7 linked regions of the Homo sapiens genome follow. The protein of the gene in region 5 purifies or fractionates together with the protein of the main gene of each other region. This does not show direct contact. Each region holds a gene or a part of one and is shown on either strand. Other genes may lie near its edges.

Region 1 (4,105 bases), about 81 Mb from region 5:
AACATGGTTAAACCCCGTCTCTACTAAAATAGTACAAAAATTAGCCGGGCGTGGTGGTGGGCACTGGTAATCCCAGGTACTCAAGAGGCTGAGGCAGGAGAATCGCTTGAACCTGGGAGGCAGAGGTTGCAGTGAGCCAAGATTATGCCACTGCACTTCAGCCTGGGTGACAGAGCAAGACTCTTATCTCAAAAAAAATAAAAAGAATTATGAAAGTTGGATTCAAATTTTGGGTATATTACTAAGTAACAACATATGGTTGTTCTAAGAATTAAAAGGAACTGACATGTAAAAGTGCTTAGAACAGGACCTAGGCCCTGTGCAATGGCTCACACCTGTAATTCCAACACTTTGGGAGGCAGAGGCGGGAGGATTGCTTGAGGCCGAGGGTTCAAGACTAGCCTGGGCAACATAGCGAGACTGCATCTCTACAAAAAATTTAAAAATTATCCAGGTGTAATGGTGTGCACCTGTGATCCTAGCTACTTGGGAGGCTGAGGTGGGAGAATTGCTCAAGCCCAGGAGTTTGAAGTTGCAATGAGCTATGATTTCACCACTGCATTCTAGCCTGGGCAACAGAGTGAGATCCTGACTCAAATAAATAAATAAGAAGAGCAGTTGCCTACCACATAGTACTTATTCAGTCAGTGTTAGAGGATATTGTAGTATTATCAAAAGTATTGGTTATTGATAATATTACTGTTTTGTGGTAATGCTACTTCTGCACACCCCAGTTTCCTTCTTGGTTATGCAGAAACAGTAGAACCTGTGTAACCTCAAGGAGATATTGTATGAATCTCACTAGCCGCAGCTTATAATAAAGCCGAGAACATTTACTGAGCACTTACTATGTTCTTACTACTTCCCCTGCCATGGGAAGTGTGGGGATGCAAGGGCCCCTCCAAAGGAGCTTTAGGTCCTCATCCTCCAGAGTGGAGTCTTCCAGCTACTGCACTGACTGATGGGCTGCAGATGTGTTTTCAGCTGTTCACTCTTCTTGAACTGCACAGCCCTTGGGGCAGCCAGAGCTTGTGAATAAATACTTTTTTGTTCCTTCTAAATTTTCCTTCATCACTCCCCTCTATTTCCATTTCTCCTCTCCTCCTCCTCTTCCTCCTCATCTCCCCATTGCTTAGCCTGCAGTATCGCAGCTCTTTCTAGAAGGCCCTAGTGGACAATGAAAAAGCCTGAAGAAAACAAAGATAAAAATTGCAGTCAGTCGGCTGGGTGCGGTGGCTCACGCCTGTAATCCCAGCACTCTGGGAGGCCGAGGCGGGCGGATCACGAGGTCAGGAGGTCGAGACCATCCTGGCTAACATGGTGAAGCCCCGTCTCTACTAAAAATACAAAGAATTAGCCGGGCGTGGTGGTGGGCACCTGTAGTCCCAGCTACTCGAGAGGCTGAGGCAGGAGAATGGCAGGAGAATGGCGTGAACCTGGGAGGTGGAGCTTGCAGTGAGCCGAGAACCCACCACTGCACTCCAGCCTGGGTGACAGAGCGAGACTCTGTCTCAAAAAAAAAAAAAAAAAAAAAATTGCAGTCAGTCGATAAGCAGTACCGTGGGGCTTGGTGGGGTTAAAGCCAGTGGATACACAAAAGTCTGTCAGTTTCATTTACCTGTCCCTTCCCCACCAATAATCGAGGGTTGGCTCTATTCAGAACTTCTCTGTCCCTTTCTTCATCTCCTGATTTTGCCTGCTGACTAAAATATGAATTGGGTAGTCATTTTCTCTCTTTTTCTCCTTTGGTTTCCTAGGTTTTTGGGTCCACTGCAATGACTCAAAGCTGAATGTATGCAGTGTCGAGGAAGTGTGCAAAACCCAGGCCTACATCCTTTTTTACACTCAAAGAACAGTGCAGGGCAATGCAAGAATCTCAGAAACCCATCTCCAAGCTCAGGTGCAGTCCAGCAACAATGATGAAGGCAGACCACAGACATTTTCCTGAATGGGAGGCATGTATCAAAGACTGGCTTTTGTGTATTGGTGTCCATACATCTTTCCTCTTATAGGAAATAAGGCTACTGCAGGAACAGATTACTAGGTTTGCCTTGCTGGGTCTAGAGTAGAAGGTGCCAGGTGATTCGTGTCCTGTCGTAAATTTTATAGTCTCTTTCTTTTGAATGAGTTTGGGAGTTCCCTCCTTTCCTAAAAACAAAAGAAGTAACTTCTATGAAGATCCTTTCATCAGTTGCTTCTGAATATAGAGGGATCTGGGTGGAGGAAAGCGGGGCGGGGGGGTAAATCAATCATATCCACACAGGAGAGCAGCCATGTTTTCTCTCCATGATGTGATTCCCCTGCTAATCAGGACCTCCTTGCAGCACCAGAAGAACCCTCCGGATGTGAGCAGTCCTGGACAGAGCACGTGAGGAGGGGCCCTGGGCTAGCAGTTTGCTGGATGGGATTGGCTCCAAGATGGGAGATGAAGTCTAAAGGGTTTATTCCCACAAAGGAAGTAACCTTCAAGGGTTTAAAACAAACTTCCTTTTTTGGGGATAGCAGCTGAAGAGTGGAGTGAGATGCATGGAACAAATTTCCCCATGCAAAGTGGGATGGTTTTCATATGTCATACCCTCCCTACTTGCTGCTGTCATATAATCATTCCATACTTCTGAGACTGGCATGAATACCCCTTCATTCTAAAGAAGGGGCAGGTCATATAAAGAAGCAATAGACTAGCACATGTTCCATGCTGAGCCAAAGGACACTCCTGGCTATCTCAGTTCTGTAGCAGATCCCTGGTTCAGGTCTAGGGCAAGCACATGGTTTGGTTTAAATTGATTCTTAGGTTTTCTCAGAACTCAATTGAGGGTGGGCAGAGATAGCTGATGCTCCAGGGCTTATTGAAGGCCTGTCACCCGTTCTCACTTCAGTGCGGCATGCAGCTTCTTAGCCTGCAGCTTCTTTCTTGCTCCTGGAGAGCTAGAACATTCATGTTCACAGGGTTTGGGAGCTTTTGGTTCTCTAGGGTATGTTAACTGCTTAGGAGTCCACCTCGTACATATCTGAAGAGTTGATTACCAATGGCCTTGACCTGTTTCCTCCCAAATCTGATAATCCCTACTGTTGCTTTACCCCCCATACTCAGTCCATCAGAGAAAAAAACAAGAGTGCCCCGTCCTTTCCCCCAGTGCTAGTAAAATACATCTTCCTTTTTAAATTGGGTCAGTTTCTAAACAGAATGAAATTGCCCAGATAAAAACCCTTGTCCCCATCAGGCACCACTTCATTCTTAGTTCTTCACTTAGATTTGCTGGTGAAAGTGAATGCAAACCCTAACTTTTGTTGCTGTGGTCACTGCAGTGAGCCTCACTCAACCTGTCACTATGAATGCTCATCTTTTGACTGAGTATATCATATTAATGTTTGAATTCAGGTAGAAGTACAGTTGTCACTTGAAGGGAGTAGATGTGGAAGGGCGTTCGGGGAGGAGTGGGAAGTGGGGAAAGCCAGGCTAAAGAATGAGGGTTATAGCTTTAGCAATGTTGATGAGCCACATTTCCCACACAGATCTGTAGCATTTGCTGTTGACCTCTTTTGAGATGAACTCTCCCATAGGCCCTGCCAGGCAGCACTGAGACATGGAGGAAATTCAGACAAAAAATGGCTCACCCTGATAGGGAAGGAGTGACTATATTTTAAATTAAACTTGCTTTTTCCAACACTGTGAGGTTTCTGTAATATTTAGCTTTTATTTGGAAGCGATAGCGTATGGCATTTTTTATGCTGTTTGGTTTATATTGTCTACTGCAGGCTTCTTTGTATAAGCTTTGCCTGGGCTCACCCTCTCCTGGACACTGTTTTAAAGTGTCACCGCTGTCCATGCTGCCAGAGGCTCTGATGTGAAGCTGTACTCTCAAGATCCACGTTTTTAAGTCGGCATGATTAGTAATGACTTTTTGTGGCAATAGAAAAGCCCATTAACTCAAAAAAACCAAGGAGAGTAAAAAGGAAAGGAAACTATGAATCGTGCCTCATCTTTCATTGAATCCTATATTTATTATTCTAGAAAAAAAGAACTTACAAGATAGAGAAGAACTAATAGAGCATCTACTTTACCCCTCAGGCTGTCCAGTGGGGATAATTATTAATAAACATTTAA
Region 2 (4,105 bases), on a different chromosome or scaffold from region 5:
GGTCAGCAGGTCAGCAGAGGAGTGGGGCTGGGCTGGGGCTGCAGGAGCGATTCTCCCAGGGCCAGGAGAGCCAGTGAGGGTGGTCCGCACTCCGATGGGACACAGTATGGCCAGGCCAGGCGGAGCAACCCCTCCTCAGTGCTGGGTCATCTGTGAAAGGGACACGGAGTGGGCAGTGATCCCCAGGCCCTGGTCCCGCACAGCCCGGTCTCCCCCACAGCGCCTTCCCCCTCTCACCTTGGCCGGGCTCGGGGGGTATCTGACCTTCAGGCCTTCATCATTCATCAGAGGCCTCACCAGGCAAGAGCGGCGGTGAGAGAAAGTCTCGAAGCTCTTCTTGCCATGGTAGGATCCCATGCCGCTGTTCCCTGCGGAGGAGAAGTAAGCACAGGGCTCAGCATCCTGCCCCCAGGACGCCCCAGGTTTCCCTCTCCACCTTGTTGGGTGTATCCCAGAACCACAGGGACAGGGAGGCAGAGCCCCAGCCACCATCACCCATCCTTCCCTCAAATCCTATGGCCCTCAGCACCCAGCCCCAGGTTGTGGCCCTTTTCTGGGCCTCCTGAGGGTGGCCAATGTCTAGGGTGTCCCCAGGGCATCCACACTGTGGGAGTGCCCAGCAAGGGTCTAATCCCAGCTCTGCCACTAAATGGCTGTGTGACCTCTGGCCTGGGTCACCTTTCTCAGGCCTCCATGAAATAGGCCGGTGCACCAGGTGACCTCTAGGAACCTCTAGGCTCCCAGGTTAAGTGTGTCTGATGGATGGCACGCAGAGGCCAAGGTCCAAATGGAAGAGGCTAATGGGAGGCTGCCGCCCGGGCTGCAGGAGGTGGTCCCTCCTGAATTTGCTGGGTGAGTGTGCCCAGCCCTGGGGCCCAGAGGGAGGCAGCAAGCTCAGCCCCAGACTCACCCACGCCCCCGAAGGGCAGAGAGTGCAAGGTGATGTGGACGATGACATCGTTGGCCGCCACCCCACCACTGGATGTCTCTGCAATCATCTTCTTAATCACCTGCACCAGGACCCAGCCACTGGCCTCAGTCTCCTGCCCACAGGATGCCCCAGCCCCCAACCCGACCCTGCCTGGGTATAGCCTGGAGCCACAAGGACAGGAGCAGGTGGAGGCAGAGCCTTAGCCTCCATCTCCTGCTCTTCCTGCAGACCGCGTGGCTGTCAGCACCACATGAGCAAAGAGTGACAGCAGCCGCCCCCATGCCTGTGTGCAGGGCCCTGGGCAAGGATCGCTCATTCAGTGCCCTCAGGTGATGCTGCTGTCCTGATCTTACAGACGAGGTGAAAGGAGCTCAGAAAGATCCAGTGACTTGCCCAAGGTCACACAGCCAGAGAACAGTGAAGCTGCAGTTTGAACCCAGGTCTGTGGGCCCCAGGACCCTGGCAGAGGGCACCCCAGGCCCACCACCCACCTTGTCGTTGCTGGAGAACATGTAGAGGGCCAGGGGCTTCTCACGCTGGTTGATGAACTGGATGGCCTCCTCCAGGCTGCGCACGCACACGATGGGCAGCACAGGCCCGAAGATCTCCTCTTGCATCACCGGGGACTGGGGGTCCACGTCCGTGAGGATGGTGGGGGCTGAGGCAGGAAACAAGCCAGAGTTGGACGGCGCAGAGACCCCCACGCGGATGGAAAGTGCAAGCACCTAGACCCCTGCTCCAACCCTTTTCCAGGCAAACCTGCCCAGGCTTGGAAAAGGGCAGGGACGAGGCCTCAGAGAGGTACCCTAGGCACCTGCGTCCTGGATGCCATCTGAGCAGACCACTGGGGACAACTATAGGTTAACCTGTACGGAAGGACCCGAGATCTGTCTCCAGGAGCAGGCACTGCACCTGCCGGCCACCTGATGCCCTGCCAGAATTCTCTTGTCTCCTTGACAAACTCGGGGCCAAGAGGGTCCCATCTGGTGACCCACAGCCTGGGCACTGGGGGCCCCTCACGGCTGGGCACACCTGGGGCTCCTGTGGCTTCTGCTGTCCCTGCTCCTGCTGCTTCAGAGGGGCAGGGAGATGAGGCCCCTCTTTCTGGGCCTTTGCTGGGAGAGGGGATTCTGAGGTTGAAGCAGGGGCTGTCCTCAGCCCCTGCCTGCTGGAGTCTACCGCAGGCTCCCTGGTGAAAGCAATTTATACCCATCCCGAGGTCGTGTCCGCTTATCAAGCATCTGTGCCCACTTGCTGTGAACTTGCTGGGGACCCCTGCAGCCTGGGCAGGTGGGCTGTGCTCTTCAGGGGTCACGCACCTATGTAGCGAGTGGCGGCATCCCCGGTGCCCCCATAAGCCACCTTCTGGCCCTCAATCAGGCCCATCACCCTCTGGAAGTGCCGGGCACTAATGATTCTTCCATAGTCCCGGGATTTCTTAGCATCTTCCCCGTAGAACTCCTGTGGAGAAGAGGTGGGGGCTTCGGGTAAGGACGCAGAGCCTCGTCCTGCCCAAAGGCTGCACAGACACAGGCCAGCAGTGTCTGTCTTTGGGTGGTGGGATTCTGGGTGGAGCTTTTTTCTTCTTTATGCTTTTTAATCTTTTCTAAATAATCTATAGTGAGTGTGCATTATCTTTTTTTTTTCTCTTAGAGACAGGGTCTTGTTCTGTTGCCCAGGCTGGAGTGCAGTGGTGCAATCATAGCTCACTGCAGCCTCAAACTCCTGGGCCCAAGCAATGCTCCAGCCTCGCCGTAGCCTTCTAAGTAGCTGAGACAACAGGCATGCACCACCATGCCACCATGCTTGGCTAATTTAAAAACATATTTTGTAAAGATGGGATCTTGCTATGTTACCCAGGCTGGTCTCAAACTTCTGGCCTCAAGTGATCCTCCACTCTCTACCTCCCAAAGTGCTGGGATTACCGGTGTGAGCCACCATGCCTAGCTTGCATTATGTTTATATTAGAAGAAAATAAATCCAGTGTTTCCAAATCTGTAGAAGTTGGTTAAGGGGCCAGGCCCCCCTTGTGCCTTACAGCCTCTCATCCCACCCTGCCAAGGGGTCAACACTCACTTTCAGTGACTTCTTGAGCTTCTCCACAATTTGGTTCTGGATCGAGGGGTCACAGAGGATGTAGTCAGGGGCCACGCAGGTCTGGCCACTGTTCATGAATTTCCCCCAGGCGATGCGTCTGTGAGAATCCCAGACTGGACTAAATCCAAAAGGTTCCCCAGGAGTTGCATCTCGTTTTGCAGACCCCTGAGCTCTCTGGTCAGCAGAAGCCATCGGCTGTGACCTTGCCACCAGTGAGTCCTCCCAAGCGGTCTGCTCACTTCTAGACACTGGACCGAGCAGACCCAATGGCCCTGATCATGTTCACCGGCGACTGGTGGGGAATTTCTAGAGGACGTCTGTTGAGGGCAACCTCCGTGCTCCCTGATCACGCCCTTGTCCTGCACAGCCAGGTGTCACTGCTACTCGGGCCCCCCTACATCTCTGGGGCCACAGATGTGGGATATGGAGGTGGTCAGAGCCCTGGCTAGGGTCAGGAGGTGCAGATACGGGTTCTGCCCCAGACCCCGAGCAGCGGTGGCCCTTCTCCCCTCTGGGCCTGCTCTCCAGAACTCAGATTGCCCTGCCCCATCAGAGGGCTGAACCCAGTACAGTTCCTTGTGTCCTGAACGTCCCACAGCTGCTTTTTCTGCAGCCTCTGCTTGGAGTACCACTTCCCCAGTGATGCGCACTCAGCAAACAGAGCTCAGCCTAGACCTCTCCCCCTCCAGGAAGCCTTCTGGGACTCCCCACACGTCTTCTGTGCATGTGGTCCCCACCCCTACCCCCATGTAAGTTTCTGCAAGGACCACTGCTCCATGAGGCAGGGGGTGTCTGTGTTACTCAGAGTGGACCCACAGCATGAGGTGCAGTCATGTGTGCTTGGAAAGCAGAGTAAGGACTGCTGCAGCCAGCAGGCCCGTGCCTCTCACCGGCAGGCCACGTCCAGGTCACAGTTCTTGTCCACGTAGCAGGGACTCTTCCCTCCCAGCTCCAGCGTGACAGGGGTCAGGTGCTTGGCAGCAGCCGTCATGATGATCTTCCCCACCCCCGTGCTGCCCGTGTACAGGATATGGTCGAACCTCTCCTTGAGCAGCTCCGTGGTCTCAGGGACACCCC
Region 3 (4,105 bases), on a different chromosome or scaffold from region 5:
ACAAACATACATGAACAAGAAATACGCTACTCTGGAGAGGGCCATGGTAATTGTCACTCCATTTAGTTATAAAACTAAAAACTTGTCCACAGAAAAACAAAAACAAAATAAGGTGTAAGATACAGACACTAAACTGAAAGCCAAAATCAGCTGGCTATGACTTGCAGGGTGAGATGGGGATGGTATTCACTTGCAGGATGAGATGGGGATGGTATTCACTTGCAGGGTGAGATGGGGGATGGTATTCACTTGCAGGGTGAGATGGGGATGGTATTCACTTGCAGGGTGAGATGGGGATGGTATTCACTTGCAGGGTAAGATGGGGGATGGTACTTGCAGGGTGAGATGGGGGATGGTACTTGCAGGGTGAGATGGGGGATGGTACTTGCAGGATGAGATGGGGGGATGGTACTCACTTGCAGGGTGAGATGATACTTGCAGGGTGAGATGGGGGATGGTACTTGCAGGGTGAGATGGGGGATGGTACTTGCAAGGTGAGATGGGGGATGGTACTCACTTGCAGGGTGAGATGGGGGATGGTACTTGCAGGGTGAGATGGGGGATGGTACTCAATTGCAGGGTGAGATGGGGGATGGTACTTGCAGGGTGAGGTGGGGGATGATACTTGCAGGGTGAGATGGGGATGGTACTTGCAGGGTGAGATAGGGGATGGTACTTGCAGGCTGAGGTGGGGGATGGTACTTGCAGGCTGAGGTGGGGGATGGTACTTGCAGGGTGAAGTGGGTGATGGTACTTGCAGGGTAAGATGGGGGATGGTACTCGCACTTACAGGGCTAGATGGGGGATGATACTTGCAGGGTGAGATGAGGGGGTGGTACTTGCAGGGTGAGATGAGATGGTACTTGCAGGGTGAAATGCAGGGATGGTACTCACTTGCAGGGTGAGATGGGATGGTAGTTACAGGGTGAGATGGGGAGATGGTACTTGCAGGGTGAGATGGGGGATGGTACTTGCAGGGTGAAATGGGATGGTACTTGCAGGGTGAGATGGGATGGTACTCACTTGAGGGTTGAGATGTGGGGGATGGTACTTGCTGGGTGAGATGGGATGGTACTTGCCAGGTGAGATGGGGGATGGTACTTGCAGGGTGAGATGGGGGGATGGTACTCACTTGCAGGGTGAGATGGGGGGATGGTACTCACTTGCAGGGTGAGATGGGGTGATGGTAGGCACACTCATCCCCATTTTTACAAGCAGGCCAGTACTTGCAGCGCTCCAAAAGTTTTTCTGGTTTCTGTGCCACACTCAGTTCACTCATCTCAGCTACAAAGGGAAAGGAAATAAAAGTATTTCATTCATTATGATCAATTCAGTACACAGCACCTTTAACATATTTCCCTCAAACCTGTCTTAGAATCTTCTGTTAAATGTACAGTCATATAAAATAAGTGAGCTCAAATTATGGGATTAACACTGGCCATAGAATCCTATAAAAGGTTGCCAGGAAGAAGACAACAGTTCTCACTGTGAAAAGGAAAGAGGACAGTGACTCTGCAACTACGGCCAAATTTTTCACCAAAAATTCTAATTCTCAATACTAATTCATAGCTGAATTAAAAATAGAGAAGGACGTCAAGTGGGGAACTAATAAAATTAAATAAAAACTGAAAACAGGTAAGGTGATAAGGAGATGTGAATCCTCACACGCCAGCAAGATGATGAGTGGCCCAAATACAAAAGGATTCCCACCTGCTGAGCTGTAAGTCCAGGTGCGAAACTCAGCAATGTCTTTTACTTTTTTTTTTTTTTTTTTTTTTTACGACAGGGTCCTGCTCTGTCACCCAGGATGGAGTACAGTGGTGTGCCAGTGGTGTAATCTCGGCTCACTGCAACCTCTGCCTCCCAGGCTCAAGTGATACTCCCACCTCAGCCCCTACCAAGTAGCACGTGCCACCACGCCTGGCTACAGGGTTTCCCCACGTTGCCCAGGCTGGTCTTGAACTCCAGGACTTAAGCGATCCACCCACCTCGGCCTCCCAAAGTGCTGGGATTATAGGCATGAGCCACCGCGCTCAGCCAGCAATGTCTAAAAAGGGGAAAACATTTTTACCTACAATGGGGTCACAAATGCCATCACTTACAGAGACTGGGCAGTTCCCCTAACAGCAAGACTGACTGGGCTGAAGATGATAAATGCAATAAGGGACAGACGGGGAGCAGCAGCCTGGAAAGCAAGTGCACACCCATCCACTCCACTCCCTGTGCCACATCCAATCACAGCTTCGATTACTATGACAGGGCAAAGTGGGACCCCTGTTGCCAGATTTTTATCCTGTTTCAGTAAGCCAAAAATCTGCCTTCATCGAAATTGTAATGCTGGCAATTTATTAAATAACACTGAATAAGTAAAATTACAGCTACAGGCAATAATCAGCTGCTAATTTCTGGACTGAGACACCTTAAACTCCCCACAAAATAGCATCATGGGTATTATGTATTATGGTTCACATTCATGTTCATGAAAGCAAGTATCACTTCAACTGTATTCCTCTAGTCCTCTTGCCAGAGGTCAGTTAAAATCTGACTCTGCCACTTAGTTGCTCAGCCAGACACTCTGTGCAAATGTTAGCTAACTTTTTGGAATTCTGTTTCCTCATCTATACAAAGAGAAAATAATGTCTTCCTTAGAGTCTGATGATTAAACGGAAAAAATGCAAAACAGGCAACCAGTCGTAATAGCAGCAGCAGCTAGTTCTATGAGTACTTACTGTTCCAGTGACCCACATTCTGTCCTCACTACAGGAGAACAAGGCACACAAATGTAGTCATGCAGCCCAGATAGGAGCAGCATCAAAGAGCAATTATGACTATGCCTGATACAAACAGTTTTCTATGCTACTTTAAAAATAGTAAAAGTCCTATTTAAGCTTTAAATAGGATGTGGTGGCTCATGCCTGTAACCCCAGCACTTTGGGAGGCCGAGGCGGGCAGATCACTTGAGCTCAGGAGTTTCAGACCAGCCTGGGCAACATGGTGAAACCCCATCTCTACAAAAAATACAAAAAATTAGCCAGGCATGGTGGTGTGCACCTGTAGTAACCAACTACTCAGGAGGCTGAGGTGGGAGAATCACTTGAGCCTGGGAGGTGGAGGCTGCAGTGAGCCATGACTGTGCCAATGCACTCCAGCCTGGGCAACAGGAGGGATACCCTTTCTAAAAACAAAACAGTATAAGTCATTTTAGTTCTAAGATACAAGAATAATCGGTTCCAAAGAAAATGTGAGATGACTGGAAGTTTCTCTAATTTTTACAGGTTTTTTGTGTCATCCCCGCAAAGTAAATGTGTCTTACCCTTTTCCTATAATAAATTACACACAGCAGACTATAATATATACACAAGAACCCAGTACAAATAAAAGATTAAGAGAATACCCAAGAGAAGCCTAGCTGGAAAGCAAAGTAGCTAGATACTCAGGAACAATATAATACTTTACAAAGAAATGTGATTATTACAATAATACCTTACAAAGAAACTTTATCTTTCTTTTAAAAACATTAAGTCATACGAAGGTCATGCCCCTAGTCTTCACTGGCTGACACCGACTTTGTAAACTATTAAAACTTTCTGTTCAAATTTTAAGAGGCAAATTCACCTTTTATTGAAAGCTATAGGCCAGGCACGGTGGCTCACACCTGTAATCCCAGAACTTTGGGAGGCCGAGGTTGGTGGATCACTTGAGGTCAGGAGTTGGAGATTAGCCTGACCAACATGGTAAAACCCCGTCTCTACTTAAACTACAAAATTAGCCAGGTGTGATGGTGCATGCCTGTAATCCCAGCTACTTGGGAGACTGAGGCAGAAGAATGGCTTTCAACCTGGAAGGCAGAAGTTGCAGTGAGCTGAGATGGCTCCATTGCACTCCAGCCTGGGGGACAGAGAGACTCTATCTCAAAAAAAAAAAAAACAAAGAAAGCAAGCTATAAAATCTGTGCTGCCATATGACAGTGAGTGAAAAGACAGCAGGTTAAAACAGATGTTGTTGTTGGTAGCATCCTTGAAACAACCCAACATAAAACCAACCAGAAGCAATTGCAGTTTCAAACTCCCTGCTCACAGGGGAAGTGGTGCAGAGACTAGAGACT
Region 4 (4,105 bases), on a different chromosome or scaffold from region 5:
CCTTTACTGTACTTTTGAGTCATCACTTACCCAATAGGAAACAGATCCCAGAGCCAGGTCTCTGGGAAGTACTGGCGGACCTGAGAATCCTCTGCTTGATGTAAAGGAGTTGATGACTCAAAAGCCTCTGGATGACCACCGCCTGCTGATGAAATTGAGAATACGAAAACTTTAGGAAACAGGAGACTTCTTGTTGTGACATAAATTGGGATGGAGGGATTACTAGAAAGAAATTTAGAGGGAAGCAGAGAACATCCAGTCAGAGGCAAGGAGGAAGGACCAAAGAGGAACTAACTAGTCACAAAGGCCATCGAGGGAAGTGATAGCCAAGGAGGTTTGGCCGGGGAATGGATACATAAGCTTCAGGCTTCAAAAGCTCTCCCCAGAGAGAGAACACTTGGGAAACTGTCCTGCATCTGTGACCCACAACCCATTAGCATTCTCGGGCTAGAGGCTCAGTGCAAGAACAGGAGGCAAGAGGAAATCTGCAGAGTTCCAGGACTGTTAACATCTCAGAGAATCCACAGACCACAGAGGTGGCTTACCACCCATAGCAGTGCTGTATTCTGGAGATCTGTGACTGCAATCTACTGGCTTCTTGATTTTGGCATTGGACAGTATTTTCAGGCCCACGTCCTGATAGGCATCAGAGAAATAAGTATTAAGGTGGTCCCTTCCCCAACTACAAGGGCTACTGCCCAGGAATTCCACCATCAAAGAGTTGAAACAAAACATTCTTTTTGAATTAATGGTGAACCTGGGTGTTCTTACCTGAAACTCAGCCACTGAGGCTGGTTGGCTTCTGTTCCAGCTAGCATGAAAGGCTTTCAGTTAAACTTATTTCATCATTACATACATGTAATGGTTCTGCCAAATATTATTCGCTATGTCCTTACTATTTGACTTACGCTGTAAACATGCTGAGGGTAGGGACCATATCAGCGTACTCAATTCAACAAAAATACAATGAGCCTTATGAAGGGTCAGGCATTAGAGAGAATACAAAGATGAACAAGACCTAGTTCCTGACCTCAGGGACCTCCTGGTCAGACTTGGGTCACACAGCATCCCAAATCCTGCTCATAGAATAGGTGCAAATTATTTTTTATAATAATGATAAGAGACCTCTGGTCTACCTTCTCTAATTTTCCCTCCTGATTGATCTCATGGAAATCAGTGTTTGAGGACAACAAAAAGAGGAAGACTAGGTTGGACATCTTCTTCAAGCATAAGGGCCAACAGAGGCGACCTTACACGTCAGAAGCTTCTTTCAAGATTTTGTTCCCATCAGTGCCCATATGAGTCTCTCTGCTTTCTTAGATATGAACTTTCCTTTGCCCATTCCCACCACCATCTTTCCCATAAGAACAAAATGGGTAAGAAGACCTACCCGGAAAAAGCTGAAAAGGTCCGTGCCTTCAGAGAACGAGGGCCTCCAGATAATGGAACGCTGGCTCGAATGCCCTTGGGGCATTGGGTCAATGAGGGGCTGAGGAAAGTCCCATGGGCCAGACACTGGACACTGATCATACTCAGCCACTTGATAGGGGTAGTGACCATACCAGAATGGAAACATCCCATAGACCTGGGACAAGAGGGGGAGAGGAAATAAAGCATTGATATAGTGATATCAGTTGAGAAACTTCTCTCAGATTCTGGTGCTCAGTTCACTACTCCTGTATCATTTCTCTTTATTACTTCAGAATTATTTTTATATTCATTCTGTCATAATTACCTTTCTCACTGTCTAAAACTTTAACCTCTATCTCACCTATTTTTTCATAATCCTATCCCCTATTTCGTTCTCTTTCTTGTTTTTTTTTTGAGACGGAGTCTTGCTCTGTCGCCCAGATTGAAGTGCAGTGGGACGATCTCGGCTCACTGCAACCTCTGCCTCCCGGGTTCACGCAATTCTCCTGCCTCAGCCTCCTGAGTAGTTGGGATTACAGGCATGCGCCACCATGCCTGGCTAATTTTTGTATTTTTAGTAGAGACAGGGTTTCACCATGTTGGTCAGGCTGGTCTTGAACCCCAGACCTCAGGTGATCTGCCTGCCTTGGTCTCCTAAAGTTCTGGGATTACAGGCTCATTCTCTTTTCTTGTCTCTGCATTCATACTAACCATGCCTTTCTCTTATCCTTTCTTTTTTTGTTTTTGTTTTTTTTTTTTTGTTTTTGAGACAGAGTTTTGCTCTTGTTGCCCAGGCTGGAGGGCAATGATACAACCTCCGCCTCCCAGGTTCAAGTGATTCTCCTGCCTCAGCCTCCCCAGGATTACAGGCATGGGCCCATGCCCAGTTAATTTTTTTTTTTTTTTTCTGGATTTTTAGTAGAGACAGAGTTTCTCCATGTTGGTCAGGCTGGTCTCGAACTCCCGACCTCAGGTGATCTGCCAGCCTCGGCCTCACAAAGCACTGGGATTACAGGCGTGAGCCACCGTGCCCAGCCCTCTTACACTTTCTAACTTCATTTTCACACCAGCCTTTTTACCGCCTTATGGCAGTGCATTATTTCCCTAAGACTTTCTCTCCCCTGCCTGAAACCTACCTCTTAATTGTCTTCTCCATCAACTCCCTCCTCCCACTCTGTCAGCAGACAGTTACTCACAGAGCGGTTGCTCAGCTCTCTGTCTGGCCTAAGCAGTAAGACACTCTCATCCACCGCCCGGAGCGCACACAGGGATCCGGGAGCTGCCTGCAGCTGCAGCTCCACTTCTGCTCCTGGAAGCTGCTGGGAGGGGGAGAAGCCAAGGGAAACCTGGGGAAGGGAAAGGTATAACTTGGGGATCAGGTCAGCCTGGAAAGGAAGGGAAACAACATAATTTGGGTCATCAGCAAATATGCCCCAGCTATGACATCCAACCCATTCTTTCACTTTTGTACTTATCTTTCTTTGTAAAGTCTAGCTCTTCAGGACGTGTATGCCGTGATAGAGTTGGGAAACGTGAGCAGCACAGTAGAAGGATAGAGAAAGTTTAGAAGACAAAAAGTAGAGAGAACATGTGGAATAACTATATAGAACATGTGGCTTCCCAGTATGGCTTTTTTTTTTTTTTTTTTTAATAGAGACAGGGTCATGCCTGTAATCCCAGCACATTGGGAGGCCAAGGCAGGTGGATGACCTGAGGTCAGGAGTTCAAGACCAGCCTGGCTAACATGGTGAAACCCCGTCTCTACTAAAAATACAAAAAAAAAAAAAAAAAAAAAAGCCAGGCATGGTGGTGCATACTTGTAATCCCAGCTACTCGGGAGTCTGAGGCAAGAGAATCACTTGAACCCAGGAGGCAGAGGTTGCAGTGAGCCGAGATCGCACCATTGCACTCCAGCCTGGGCAACAAGAGGAAAGCTCTGTCTATAAAAAATAAAAAAAATAGACAGGGTCTCGCTCTGCAGCCTTGAACTCCTGGGCTCAAGCGATACACCTGCTTCAGCCTTCCGACTAGCTGGGACTACAGGTATGCATCACCACACTCAACTAATTTTTTTTTTTTTTTTTGAGACAGAGTCTCACTCTGTCACTCAGGCTGGAGTGTAATGGTGTGTTCTTTGCTCACTGCAACCTCCGTCTCCTGGGTTCATGCAATTCTCCTGCCTCAGCCTCCCAAGTAGCTGGGATTGCAGGCATCCACCACCATGCTTGGCTAATTTTTGTATTTTTAGTAGAGACACGGTTTCACCAGGCTGGTCTTGAACTCCTAGCATCAGGTGATCCACCCACCTCGGCCTCCCAAAGTGCTGCACACCCAGCTAATTAAAAATTTTTTTGTACAGACAGGATCTTGCTATGTTGTCCAGGCTGGTCTTGAACCCTTGACCTAAAGAAATCCCTCTGCCTTGGCCTCCCAAAGCACTGGGATTACAGGAGTGAGCCACTGCACCTCAGCCAGCATGACTTCTTAAAATAAAAAGTAGGAGAGAGATGGATTTCAACACAAACCCCAAACACTAAAGATATAAATATAATACAACATCCAACGTCAACACTATCTTCTTTCCCTGACTTGTCTTGTTTCCAACCGCAGCACACACAAGATCTTTCTCTATGCCCAACTTTTATCTTCACCCTTCTCCGCTATCATTTTACCTGATTGTCAAAGCACATCTCGA
Region 5 (4,105 bases):
ATATAAATATGCCCACATAGTAGGCATTCAGAAATACATTCAGTAATATATTTTTTAATGCATAATATCTTTTGGTAAAATAAGATATTTTACTAAATCTGTAAAAGGGGTGGACCATGAAAGAAAATGGCCTAGCATGAACCTTTTACTGCATAAATTTAATTAAATGTGGAATGTGGTAATAAAGAGGCTTGGGGGAAATTGCAAGGAGCTTGGCATAAGGGGAGAATAAAAGACTCTAAGATATTCCTGCTTGCGGAAACTTTTTAACATTAAAAAAAAATTTTTTTTAAGTAGATTATTCCTTGCGTTCTCTCCCATTGAGCTCTGAAGTTTATTCTTTCCCTAGCATTTCATCCCGGGCTTTTGGAACCAGATCTCACTTCCTGAACAGGCTACGAAAACCTCTTCTAATAGGGAAGCTTTGAATTACAATCATGGGTGTTTACTGTTTCTTTGATTTTCTAAATTTACTTTTTCAAAGGTTTCATCTTCAAAACCAGAAGAAAATAAAATTCGTCAGGAAGATTTAACAAAAATTATAAGTAGTGCTCAGAAGGTTCAGATAAAACAGGAAACTATTGAGTCCAGGCTTTCTGAATTAAAAAGGTAAAGTGTTATTTCCAAATATAATTTTAATCTGGGAATTGGGTATGTGTCTATGTGTGTTGAGTTTGGAGGTTGTCTGATGTTTTATTGTAAGTACTCAGATCACTTTGTTGAAGCCAAGATCAAAGGTCATTTTTCTGCAAGTATTGGTTCCCTTTACTTTGATTTGTGGCCACTGACTTTACTCTAATATTGTTTTAATTATGATAGTCAGAAGAAGATATAAACCTAAGCGTATCAAAACAGTTTGATGTATAAGTCTTAGCAATAAACAGTAGGTCTTTAAGATGATGTAGGAAATATGATTCTATTTAGGTTAGCTCATATGGTGCTCATAGACAATGAGGGCATACGACATAAAAACCCTGTATGTTACCCATCCTTTGTTTAATGGCTGTCTCTTAAGATTTCTTTGTGTGGACTCTTAGGAAAAAGTAGGACACAAAAAAATCGGAAAACGATGCAGGAGAGTTGCCATGCTTGATACTTATTTCGTATAGACTTGGAAAAGTGTTATTCAGAGCTTTTATCTACAGAAAGATGCTTCGTTTTATTTTACTACATTTCTTGGTTACCATTATTGTAACTTGCCATACTAATAACTTGTGTATAGAGTAGATAGTGTATTACTCTTCTTAGTAAGTAGCTGGAATTTTTCTGTATCCTAATAGGTGCCAAGGGCTTAAGAGTGGTTACTTTACATATTCTCTCTTCCATATCAGATGTGAGACGTTACTTTAGTTAATCATAACTCAAATATCTTCATTAAAAGAGGAACCTATAACTTTGATTTCTTTTTTAAATAAGCTTTAGGCTTTCTCTTCTTGTGTATTTAACAACTTGTTTACTGTATGTATCTTGTGTATACTAGCTGCTCTTTGACCCAGTTCCTTGGGACCACAGTTTCAGCCTTTAAAGAAAGTGATCCCCAAATCATTTTTTGTACCTTAGAGGGAACTTTCTTCTCCTTATCTTTTTGTTTGTTTGTTTTTGTTTTGAGACAGTCTCACTCTGTTACCCAGTCTGGAGTGCAGTGACTTGATCTTACCTCACTGCAATCTCCGCCTGCCGGTTCAAGCGATTCTTGTGCCTCAGCCTCCCTAGTAGCTGGGATTACAGGCATGTGCCAGCTAATTTTTGTATTTTTAGTAGAGATGGGGTTTCACTGTGTTGGCCAGGCTGTTCTCAAACTCCTGACCTCAAGTGATCCGCCCACATCGGCCTTTCAAAGTGCTGGAATTACAGGCACGAGCCACCGCACCCAGCCCTACTTATCTTTATTTAGTAAGCAGATAACAACATTTTTTAATTTGAATCAGAAAAATACAGTAGTTATTCAGTAAATATTAAAATCTCCTTTGGTATACCCTTATATGTAAATCTCCAGTTCCTTTTATATTAGTTTGGATTAAAGAAGATGACTTGTGGAGAATAACAAAAGATGGAAAATTAAAGCATTTAATAGGTATTCAGCATTCTCCGTGCTGCGAACATTTAACAACATAATGCAGTTTCAATTAAAAAAGGTGAACGAAGAAGAAGCTATTCATATTTGGCAAGTTATTAGTTTATTATTGGATATGCTTTTTCAGAATAACATTTTAGTGGTTTACATATGCTGTTGTTTGAGATAGATCTTAAGATAGTTTTAGAATCTGACAGACTTTAGTTTGATTTCAACACTTACCAAATTATTTGTATGATCTTGAGCAGTTCCCCTCAATTCTCTGTACCTCAGTGTCCTCATCTATAAAATAGAGATGATGACTTATTTCTTGGTGGTTTTTAGAGAAATTTTAAATAAGTAATACACATAAAATGTCTAGCATAGTGCTTAGAGTATAGTAAGTGCTGGGTATATATCACTACCCTTTATTTCCTAAGGTGATTAGGAAGGCCTGAATTCACTTGGTAACCACAGTTGAAAGATTAGCTTATTTTTTTTTAAGCAAAAAATAATGAGCCAGATTGTCAAAAGTAGTAAATTGCCAACTACTATATTGATGTAGGCATATGTCTTAAGTTTCTGTGTATCTATTGTCATGAGTAGCAGATACTACACTTAGGAAGGAATGATTCTGGTGCTGGGTGCGGTGGCTCATGCCTGTAATCGCAGCACTTTGGGAGGCCGAGGTGGGTGGATCACCTGAGGTCAGGAGTTTGAGATCAGCCTGGCCAACATGGCAAAACCCCGTTTCTACTAAAAATACAAAAAAAATTAGCTGGTTGTGGTGGCACATGCCTGTAATCCCAGCTACTTAGGAAGCTGAGGCACGAGAATTGCTTGAACCCTGGAGGTGAAGGTTGCAATGAGCCGAGATCGTACCACTGCACTTCAGCCTGGGCGACAGAGCAAAGCTACACCTTTTTTTTAAAAAAAGAATGATTCAGGAGTTGTGTCAAGGTAGTTGTCATTCCTATGTAATTGAACCAAAGTTTTCTTGGTCTCATAAATACATATAGTAAAAACAAGTGTAGTTCAGTTGTCTGGTATTCTTAATTAAAGATACTATGGTCTGGTTTTTTGATTGATTTTTTTTTTGTTTTGTTGCTTAATAAATTATAACATAGTGAGAATGAGTCCCTTTGGAAGGAGGTGTCAGAATTACGAGCAAAGCATGCACAACAGCAACAAGTTATTCGAAAGGTAAGAAGCTCTTTTCCCCAGGACCATAATTTGCATTTGTTTAATGAGTACTGTTTGTGACCCAAAAAGGTCTTTATTGAGTGTCTGTGATTGATCTTAGTTTCTTACATATTGGATGCACAGATAGAAGTAAAAAATGAAATGAAATTAAGCCAAGTGTTACACATTTTTAATAAAAAATTTCTCACTAGCTAAAGATGGTTATTCCATACTCGCAGATAATGTCTCAGTAGCTTTTAGTAAATGATCTTTTGCCTAATATAACAATTTTGAAATACTTTATTTTTATGAGCATAATGAATACACTACCAATTTCTTTTAAAATTAGAAAACATAGCCTTACTGGTTTTTTTTGTTGGTTTTTATTATAAAAGGCATAGTTAAGGTCTCAGAAGATAAATGACAAATATTTTCAAATCAGTTGACCAAATTATGAGTTCAGAAAATGATTTCTCAATGTATGCTGTTATTAGTCTGTGGAGAAAAGCAGTTAACATAGTGTTGTAAAATGAATTTTAGATTTTAGTATCTGAGCTGAAAATTTAATAGAGGAGTTGGAATCCCTCCGTTTCATTGTGTCCTTGTGATTTAATCTTTGCATATCAGCTTTCATTTGCTAATAAGAGATGAAACATAGTAATTAAGGCAGCTATTTTTTGCTCATGAGTAAACTAGACTCTGAGTTTAAGCAACAGGTTTTTTGAGGGGGAGCTTCTGATTGCTCCTGCTTAGAAGGCCCTTGAACTAAAAATAGGGTTGTGACTGACAGGATCAGGGTCTAATGGAGAAGGCTTTAAAGCAGAGATGAGTAGCAGTTGCAGCCTGTAGCCTAGTCAACATAGATTTACT
Region 6 (4,105 bases), on a different chromosome or scaffold from region 5:
TTATTTACTTATTATTTGAGACAGAGTCCCGGTCTGTCGCCAGGCCGGAGTGCAGTGGTGCGATCTTGGCTCACTCCAACCTCTGCCTTTTGGGTTCCAGTGATTTTCCTGCTGCAGCCTCCCGAGTAGCTAGTACTACAGGGGTGTGCCACCACGCCCGGCTAATTTTATATTTTTAGTAGAGACAGGGTTTCTCCACGTTGGTCAGGCTGGTCTCAAACTCTCAACGTCAGGTGATCCACCTGCCTCAGCCTCCCAAAGTGCTGGGATTACAGGCGTGAGCCACCGTGCCCGAACTATGGCTATTTTTATCCAGTAGTGGACAGTAACCATTCGTCTGTTACATTGTTCATAAATTTTTGTCTCCTGGCCAGTAGTGTATATCTTATGTATTTACGATAGTCTCATACAAAACTTAATTGTGATAGTTCCACTACAGAGCTTTAATATTTTTATATAATCAGGATTATCTTGTTTTGAATGGTTTCTTGGCATGTTTAAAAAGGCATTCCCAGCCGGGTACAGTGGCTCATGCCTGTAATCCCAGCACTTTGGGAGGCTGAGGTGGGCAGGTCACCTAAGGTCAGGAGTTCAAGACTAGCCTGGCCAACATGGTGAAACCCCGTCTCTACTAAAAATACAACAATTAGCCAGGCATGGTGGCCGGTGCCTATAATCCCAGCTACACGGGAGGCTGAGACGGGAGAATCGCTTGGACCTGGGAGATGATGGTCGCAGTGAGCCAAGATCACACCACTGCACTCCAGCCTCGGCAGCTGAGTGAGACTCCATGTCAAAAAAAAACAGCCATTCCCGGCTGGGCGCCGTGGCTGACACCTGTAATCCCAGCACTCTGGGAGGCCGAGGCGGACAGATCACCTGAGGTCAGGAGTTTGAGACCAGCCTGGCCAACATGATGAAACCCCGTCTCTACTAAAAATACAAAAAATTAGGCATGGTGGCGGATGCCCATAATCCCAGCTACTCGGGAGGCTGAGGCGGGAGAATCGCTTGAACCTGGGAGGCAGAGGTTGCAAGAGCCAAGATCGTGCCACTGCACTTGAGCTTGAGCGACAGAGCGAGACTCCGTCTCCAAAAAAAAAAATAAAGTAAAAAATAAAAAGGCGTTCCCTGTTCAAAATTGTGTTTAAAATTCTCTTATGTTCTTGGCTGACATAATTATAGTTTTTTTTTTTAATTTGCCTTTTAATAATTTTTATTTAGATCTTTATATGAAATTTAGTTTTTAGGATAGAATCTTGGCATATAGAATTACATATATGAACATAATATATATCATGTTACATGCATATATGCACACTGTCGAGCTTGTTAATTGTTCTATTTTGGCTAGCTTAGGCCCTTTTTCTTCAGGATTAAAGATCTGAACTAAGCCAGGCGACTGGGTAGCAGATGTGGAAGCTGATGGTTAGGCCCAGGGCATGGCCAGGTGACAGCTCTCCAGTCACTCTTCTCTGATTTTCATTTGTTACTTTTCTTACCCAGAAAGGATCTATGTTTATGAAAATAAAAAGGAAGCATTGCAAGCTGTCAAGATGATCAAAGGGTCCCGATTTAAAGCTTTTTCTACCAGAGAAGACGCTGAGAAATTTGCTAGAGGAATTTGTGATTATTTCCCTTCTCCAAGCAAAACGTCCTTACCACTGTCTCCTGTGAAAACAGCTCCACTCTTTAGCAATGACAGGTTGAAAGGTAAATCATGCAGCCGTTCACATCTTGATGTTCCTGTCACATTGATCCCACCCTGTTTTGTGCCTTCTTTCCTCTGATGTGGTAACTTGTTTTCTCCATGAGGGTAGAGTCGATGGGGTCTCAGTGGACCAGGAGGCCATGCTGGCTCTGATGCTCGTGTAATTAGCATCTTGACTCTGGAGAAGCTGAAAAGAACGCTGTGGCCGCTTCCATCTGTCCCCGTGTCTGTTGGATTTTTTTCTTTTTTTTTTGTAAAGAGACAGGGTCTTGTTCTTTTGCCAGCCTGGAGTGCAGTCTGGTGCTATCATGGCCCACTGCAGCCTCAAACTCCTGGGCTTAAGCAATCCACCTGCTTTAGCCTCCCAAGTAGCTGAGAAATAGGCGTGCACCACCACACCCAGCTAATTTAAACTTTTTCTTTTTTTTTTTTTTTTTTTTGAGATGGAGTCTTGCTCTGTCGCCCAGGCTGGAGTGCAGTGGTGCGATCTTGGCTCACTGCAAGCTCCACCTCCCGGGTTCAAGCGATTCTCCTGCCTCAGCCTCCCGAGTAGCTGGGATTACAGGTGCACACTGCCACACCCGGCTAATGTTTGTATTTTTAGCCACCATGTTGGCCAGGCTAGAATTTAAACTTTTTTTATGGAGACAGGGTCTTGCCATGTTGCCAAGGCTGGTTGAATTGCTGGCATCAAGTGATCCTCCCATCTCAGCCTCCCAAAGTGCTGGGATGACAGGCGTGAGCCCCTGCGCCTTTTTGGATCCTGAAACCAGTCTACTTCCCCACCTGAAGCTATACCTACTTCAAGGACTAGGGCATCTGGAGAAGGCGGGCTTATCTGTAGGAGCGGTCCAGCCCGAAGTCTGACCCATGCCCACCTCCCAGCTCAGAACTAGGGTTTTGTGTGAAGAGGCTCTTCACGGTCAGTGTGGGGTAGAACCTCCGCCTTTACCTTTCATCTGGCCTCAGTTCCTGCTCCCTCTCGCAGCTCACAGTTGTCTGGGCTTCCCTGGCGGGCTGGTACTCCAGAGGAATGTTGCCCTCTCCTTCCAGTCATCCGCCTGCCCTCAGTCAGCCTTATACAGGTGCTTCCTGGATGGAAACCAGAGTGGCTTCTAACAGGTACGGATTTCCTTCTTTGCAATTTGTGAGGATTCCTCAGAAGGAAATCACCTTAAGACAGAAATCAGGCCGGGCGAGGTGGCTCACGCCTGTGATCCCAGCACTTTGGGAGGCTGAGGCGGGTGGATCATCTCAGGTCAGGAGTTTGAGACCAGCCTGGCCTACATGGTGAAACCCCGTCTCTATTAAAAATACGAAAATTAGCTGGCCGTGGTGGCAGGTGCCTGTAATCCCAGCTACTTGGGAGGCTGAGGCAGGAGAATTGCTTGAAACTGGAAGGCGGAGGTTGCAGTGAGCTGAGATCGCGCCACTGCACTCCAGCCTGGGCGAAAGAGCAAAACTGCGTCCCCCCCAAAAAAATCAGCTGGGCGTGGTGGCAGGCTCCTTAATCCTGTAATCCTTTGCAGCCACACTGTGCACATCGAAGGTCTTGCGTGATTTCTGGGAGTGTTCCCTTGCCCGCTGCTGCCGTTATTCCTCCTCCACCTACTGACCGAGCTTTCAGAGTTCACTGGCCGGGTGTGGTGACTCGTCCCTGTAATTACAACACTTTTGGGGGCTGAGGCAGAAGGATCCCTTGAAGCCAGGAGTTTGAGACCAGCCTGGGCAACATAGACCTCATCTCTAAAAATACGTGTGTATATATATATATATATATATATGTATATAAGCCAGGCGTGTTGGCATACAACTGTAGTCCCAGCTACTTGAGGGCCTGAGATCACTTGAGCCCAGGAGGTCGAGGCTGCAGTGAGCTATATTCGTGCCACCACACTCCAGCCTGGGTAACAGAGCCAGACCCTGTCTCTGAAAAAACACAAAGTTCACCAAACTTGGCCTCATTCACAGAGCCTTTCCCAGCAAGATTGTGGCAGGGTCTGGCTGCTCTTCCACTTGCTGTGCTCATGGGGGCGCGCTGGCTGCCGTTGTAGGCTGGGGCCCCCAGTGAGATTGTGGCCGGGTCTGGCTGCTCTCCCTCACTTGCTCTGCTGACGGGCACGCTGGCTGCCATTGATTGCGTTGCATGCTGGGGCCGGTGGCCGTGGGCCCTTCTCGTCTTTTCTCACCTGTGCCTCCCAGTTGGCCCAGAAGCCTCTGTGGAAAGCTGCTTATCCCTCATCAGAGGGTGCATGGGTGATGAGTGACTTTTGGTGAAACTGATTGTTCTTAAATTCTGTCTCTTACTGACAGATGGTTTGTGCTTGTCGGAATCAGAAACAGTCAACAAAGAGCGAGCGAACAGTTACAAAAATCCCCGCACGCAGGACCTCA
Region 7 (4,105 bases), on a different chromosome or scaffold from region 5:
TTTGTACATAAGATAGGACAGAAAGGAACACAAAGCTGACAAGAGTACTTTACTGCAGACAAACTCTGATGAGAAGTATTCTTCCCTTAATGATTACAGTAATAGTGGTATAACTTTTTTTTTTTTGAAACAGTGTCTTGCTCTGTTGCCCAGGCTGGAGTGCAGTGGCGAATCCCAGGTTCAAGCAATTCTCCTGCCTCAGCCGCCTGAGTAGCTGGGACTACAGGCGCTTGCCACCACGCCCAGCTAATTTTTTTATTTTTAGTAGAGATGGAGTTTCACCATGTTGGCCAGGCTGGTCTTGAACTCCTGACCTCAGGTGGTCCACTTGCCTCGGCCTTCCAAAGTGCTGGGATTACAGGTGTGAGCCACCGTGCCCAACTAGTATAACTTTTTTTTTTTTTTCGAGACTGAGTCTTGCTCTGTCATCTAGGCTGGAGTGCAATGGCACCATCTTGGCTCGCTGTAGCCTCTGCCTCCCAGGTTCAAGTGATTCTCATGCCTCAGCCTCCCGAGAAGCTGGGATTACAGGCACACGCCACCACACCCAGCTAATCTTTGTATTTTTAGTAGAGATGGGGTTTCACCATGTTGGCCAGGCTGGTCTTGAACTCCTGACCTAGTGATCCACCTGCCTTGGCCTCCCAAAGTGCTGGGATTACAGGCATGAGCCACCACACCTGGCAACATTTTATATACAATAAAAATAATAGATTTTTAACACCACATACAATTTGTGACCATTTTGAGCCAATGATTTGTTCATTTTTTGGAGATTAGGAGTAAAAGATTGCAGGTGGGGAGGTTAGGAAAGCTAATTCTCAATACTTTAATAACATACTTCTATATTTGTACCCATGTCATGCTATTGTGATTGCACATTTCTCTTTGGGAAGAGTAGTCTGGACTTTTGAAATCTTGGTGCTTTGATTCTAATATGCTTTCTCAGTATAATATCAAACCAAACACAAAGCCATCTTATGAGCAAAAGATAAGGAAAGAAAACACTGAAGAACTACAAGATGAAGTCTACACTGATGTCAGCAAATATTTTTAATATAGAGACAGCTGCATAACACCTTGATTTATCTGAGGTTACCCGCACCTGTACTTATACTACCTGGCTAAAATGTTCCATTGAAAAGTAAGCTAAGAACCTGCTCTTTTGAAATTCTGTAAAACAGAATTCAATAGACATTAAATAAGAAAACAGTCTCAGACTTTAGTCATTTTTGAGAAGGAATTCCAAGAAAGTGGGAGATGCTTGGTTTGTGTCTCTAATATCTGAAGAAAACAGATCTTTTGGCCCTTTAAACTAGTGACAAATTAAAACTTCGGTAGAGTAGTCTACAGAAACAGGGGCAATGATGCAATAAATGTTAAGCGATCATTTTGGTCAGGTGAGAAATTACTTTCATGAATGATCCCCTGAAGGCAGGAAGGACAGCTGCATATTTTTTTGTGAGCACCTGCAGTTACTAGTCTCAGGGGTGACTTGGTCATGATCAGAAATGATTATGGTTAATCATTGATGCCTCTTTCCACAATTGAAGTACATTTTAGAGTTTTTATATCCCAGGTAAATGTGTCTTTGAATAACTAAAGTTGTTACATGGTTTCAATAAATTACAAACCCCACACTGTTTTAGTTTCTAGGGCTTCTCAACCTCAGCATTGTTGACATTTTGGGCTAGATAATTCTTTGTTGTGGGGGTTGTCCTGTGCATTGTAGAATGTCTAGCAGCATCCCTAGCCTTTACCCACCGGATGCCAGTAACATTCCCCAGCTGTGACAACTGAAAAAGGCACATTTTCTGCCATAGGGGCAGAAAATCACCCCAAGTTGAGAGCCACTGAGTTAGCCAAAGAGAAGTCAGGTGAGAGACATTGTAATAAAATAATTTACATTGCTTCCCACCAACCTATAACCACAACGGTAACTCCTTAACATTTTTTGAACACTCACTTTGTCCTGGAAACTGTGCTAAGTGCTTCTCATAGATGTAATCTTCTCATCAGTTCCACAAAGCAGTTACTATTATTATTTCCATTTCACAAATGAGGAAGTTTAGCTTAATTAAGTGACCTGTCTAAACTCACACAGCATGTAAGAAGTGGTAGAGCTGATATTCAAACACAGGCTGTGCCTCCAACTCCAGCATACTTAACCACCTGTGAGAGGTTCATTTCTGTATGATCACACTCCTCACAGTCCCACCAGCTAAATCTGAATGGTCTGGGATCTAACGCTTCTTTATTAACTCTACTTAGTATACTCTTTTCCTCTAGGATTGGAAGGGGTGTGTGTGTGTGTGTGTGTGTGTTTTGTATCAGAAGAAACCAAAACCTTGATACGGAAACTACCCCGAAGGCACTGTGAACTATGTATATTATTGAAAGAATAGAACTGAGGTTATGCAACTAAATGACAGAATGGCCTGAGAGAGAAAAACAAGTGTGGTCACCTTAGCAGAGTGTTTTGAAGAGCAGAGAACTGGAACATAATCATGAGACTTGGGCAAACTTTCTCACTCTGGCCCATAGTTCAGAAATAATTGTACTCCCCTACATTTCAGTAGGTTTTAAGTGTTTCCAAGGTAGTTGCTCAAACATGCTGTCAACCCTTTGGAAGGGATGTCCTGGAGAAACACTTAATAAACCATTCTCCACTTCCAGGGCTGGAAATCAAAATGTGTGCACACACCCCTCCCGCAGGCAAATGTGAAGCTGGTGTTCCTTGAGCTTTTGGAGTTTCAAAATTCAGCTGGAGTTCTTGGACTATGCGAAGACATTCTTTTAATTCTGTGGTAGAGCAATCTTCTTAACTGCTGCTCTACCAATTATTACCTCTGTGCTCAGTCCAGCAATCATACTCTATGAAATCCTTTAAAAACCTAAAAATACTTTATTAGCAATTAGGATTTTTGCAGTAGTAGTGGTAATTGTAATAGAAAGACATCCAAGATAATAACAATTCCTGGCCAGGCACAGTGGCTCATGCCTATAATCCCAGCACTTTGGGAGGCTGAGGCAGGCGGATCATGAGGTCAGGAGATCAAGACTATCCTGGCCAACATGGTGAAACCCCATCTCTACTAAAAATACAAAAATTAGCTGGGTGTGGTGGCGCATGCCTGTAGTCCCAGCTACTCGGGAGACTGAGGCAGGAGAATCACTTGAACCTGGGAGGCAGAGGTTGCAGTAAGCCGAGATCGTGCCACTGCACTTCAGCCTGGTGACAGAGTGAGACTCCGTCTCAAAATAAATAAATAAAAATAAAAAAAAATAATAATTCCTTACATTTGCACAACCCTCCATGGTTTGTAGAATTTTCCCCTGCTACCTCTTTTAATTATTACATCCCCGTCTGAGGACAGGTTGGCACTACTGCTGCACTGAGCAAGTAAGAAAACTATATGATCAAAGAGATCATGTAGCTGTCCAGATCTCCTAATTCTCATGATAGTTGGCCCACTGTTTCCCCATCATACTACAATCACTTCACACTTTTAAATCATAGGTAACTGTTTTTAAAAGGACTTTTGGTTTGGTGCCCCCATGAATGAACCTGCTCCACTGAATCTGCTAAACAAATCTGGCATGTGGCTTAGGGTGTGGAGAACCTGGTGAGTACAGTCGAGGCTATATCCAGTGGAAAATGTAAAGATATACAAAAGTGGAGTTTTTTTTTTTTTTTTTTTGAGATGGAGTCCTGCTCTTGTTGCCCAGGCTGGAGTGCAATGGCATGATCTTGGCTCACTGCAACCTCTGCCTCCCAGGTTCAAGTGATTTTCCTGCCTCACCCTCCCAAGTAGCTGGGATTACAAGCACCTGCCACCACGCCTGGCTAATTTTTGTATTTTTAGTAGAGACGGGGTTTCGCCATGTTGGCCAGGCTGGTCTCGAACTCCCGACCTCAGGTGATCCACTCGCCTTGGCCTCCCAAAGTGTTGGGATTACAGGCGTGAGCCACTGTGCCCAGCCTAAAAGTGGAGATTTTTATCATGAGCCCACCACTGTCTCCAACAATTATCAACTTGTATGTGGCTAGTCTTGTTTCTTTTATATCCTCATCACTCTTAGATATTATATCATGTTCTATTGC

What was found.
Region 1: the proteins of HSF2 (region 5) and USP49 purify together in Homo sapiens (affinity purification with a luminescence readout; one large-scale study listed by IntAct). This does not show direct contact.
Region 2: the proteins of HSF2 (region 5) and ALDH3A1 purify together in Homo sapiens (affinity purification with mass spectrometry; one large-scale study listed by BioGRID and IntAct). This does not show direct contact.
Region 3: the proteins of HSF2 (region 5) and ZC3H14 purify together in Homo sapiens (affinity purification with mass spectrometry; one large-scale study listed by BioGRID and IntAct). This does not show direct contact.
Region 4: the proteins of HSF2 (region 5) and A2ML1 purify together in Homo sapiens (affinity purification with mass spectrometry; one large-scale study listed by BioGRID and IntAct). This does not show direct contact.
Region 6: the proteins of HSF2 (region 5) and ANKLE2 purify together in Homo sapiens (affinity purification with mass spectrometry; one large-scale study listed by BioGRID and IntAct). This does not show direct contact.
Region 7: the proteins of HSF2 (region 5) and ACP3 purify together in Homo sapiens (affinity purification with mass spectrometry; one large-scale study listed by BioGRID and IntAct). This does not show direct contact.

The regions. Positions count from the first base shown.
Region 1 is NC_000006.12:41,794,376-41,798,480, reverse strand, and holds part of USP49 (ubiquitin carboxyl-terminal hydrolase 49), read left to right. Parts: exon of another isoform or gene 1-836; intron 837-1,757; coding exon 1,758-1,948; 3' UTR 1,949-4,105. UniProt on the Homo sapiens protein: Deubiquitinase that plays a role in several cellular processes including transcriptional regulation, cell cycle progression or innate immunity.
Region 2 is NC_000017.11:19,738,086-19,742,190, forward strand, and holds part of ALDH3A1 (aldehyde dehydrogenase, dimeric NADP-preferring), read right to left. Parts: coding exon 3,919-4,105; intron 3,126-3,918; coding exon 3,008-3,125; intron 2,393-3,007; coding exon 2,251-2,392; intron 1,590-2,250; coding exon 1,423-1,589; intron 1,011-1,422; coding exon 911-1,010; intron 369-910; coding exon 238-368; intron 151-237; coding exon 136-150; 3' UTR 1-135. UniProt on the Homo sapiens protein: ALDHs play a major role in the detoxification of alcohol-derived acetaldehyde. They are involved in the metabolism of corticosteroids, biogenic amines, neurotransmitters, and lipid peroxidation.
Region 3 is NC_000014.9:88,604,422-88,608,526, reverse strand, and holds part of ZC3H14 (zinc finger CCCH domain-containing protein 14), read right to left. Parts: intron 1,285-4,105; coding exon 1,164-1,284; intron 1-1,163. UniProt on the Homo sapiens protein: RNA-binding protein involved in the biogenesis of circular RNAs (circRNAs), which are produced by back-splicing circularization of pre-mRNAs.
Region 4 is NC_000012.12:8,846,200-8,850,304, reverse strand, and holds part of A2ML1 (alpha-2-macroglobulin-like protein 1 isoform 1 precursor), read right to left. Parts: coding exon 4,083-4,105; intron 2,796-4,082; coding exon of another isoform or gene 2,757-2,795; coding exon 2,607-2,756; intron 1,586-2,606; coding exon 1,391-1,585; intron 637-1,390; coding exon 546-636; intron 146-545; coding exon 31-145; intron 1-30. UniProt on the Homo sapiens protein: Is able to inhibit all four classes of proteinases by a unique 'trapping' mechanism. This protein has a peptide stretch, called the 'bait region' which contains specific cleavage sites for different proteinases.
Region 5 is NC_000006.12:122,413,041-122,417,145, forward strand, and holds part of HSF2 (heat shock factor protein 2), read left to right. Parts: intron 1-484; coding exon 485-609; intron 610-3,180; coding exon 3,181-3,256; intron 3,257-4,105. UniProt on the Homo sapiens protein: DNA-binding protein that specifically binds heat shock promoter elements (HSE) and activates transcription. In higher eukaryotes, HSF is unable to bind to the HSE unless the cells are heat shocked.
Region 6 is NC_000012.12:132,748,251-132,752,355, reverse strand, and holds part of ANKLE2 (ankyrin repeat and LEM domain-containing protein 2), read left to right. Parts: intron 1-1,506; coding exon 1,507-1,713; intron 1,714-4,024; coding exon 4,025-4,105. UniProt on the Homo sapiens protein: Involved in mitotic nuclear envelope reassembly by promoting dephosphorylation of BAF/BANF1 during mitotic exit.
Region 7 is NC_000003.12:132,323,815-132,327,919, reverse strand, and holds part of ACP3 (prostatic acid phosphatase isoform PAP precursor), read right to left. Parts: intron 1-4,105. UniProt on the Homo sapiens protein: A non-specific tyrosine phosphatase that dephosphorylates a diverse number of substrates under acidic conditions (pH 4-6) including alkyl, aryl, and acyl orthophosphate monoesters and phosphorylated proteins.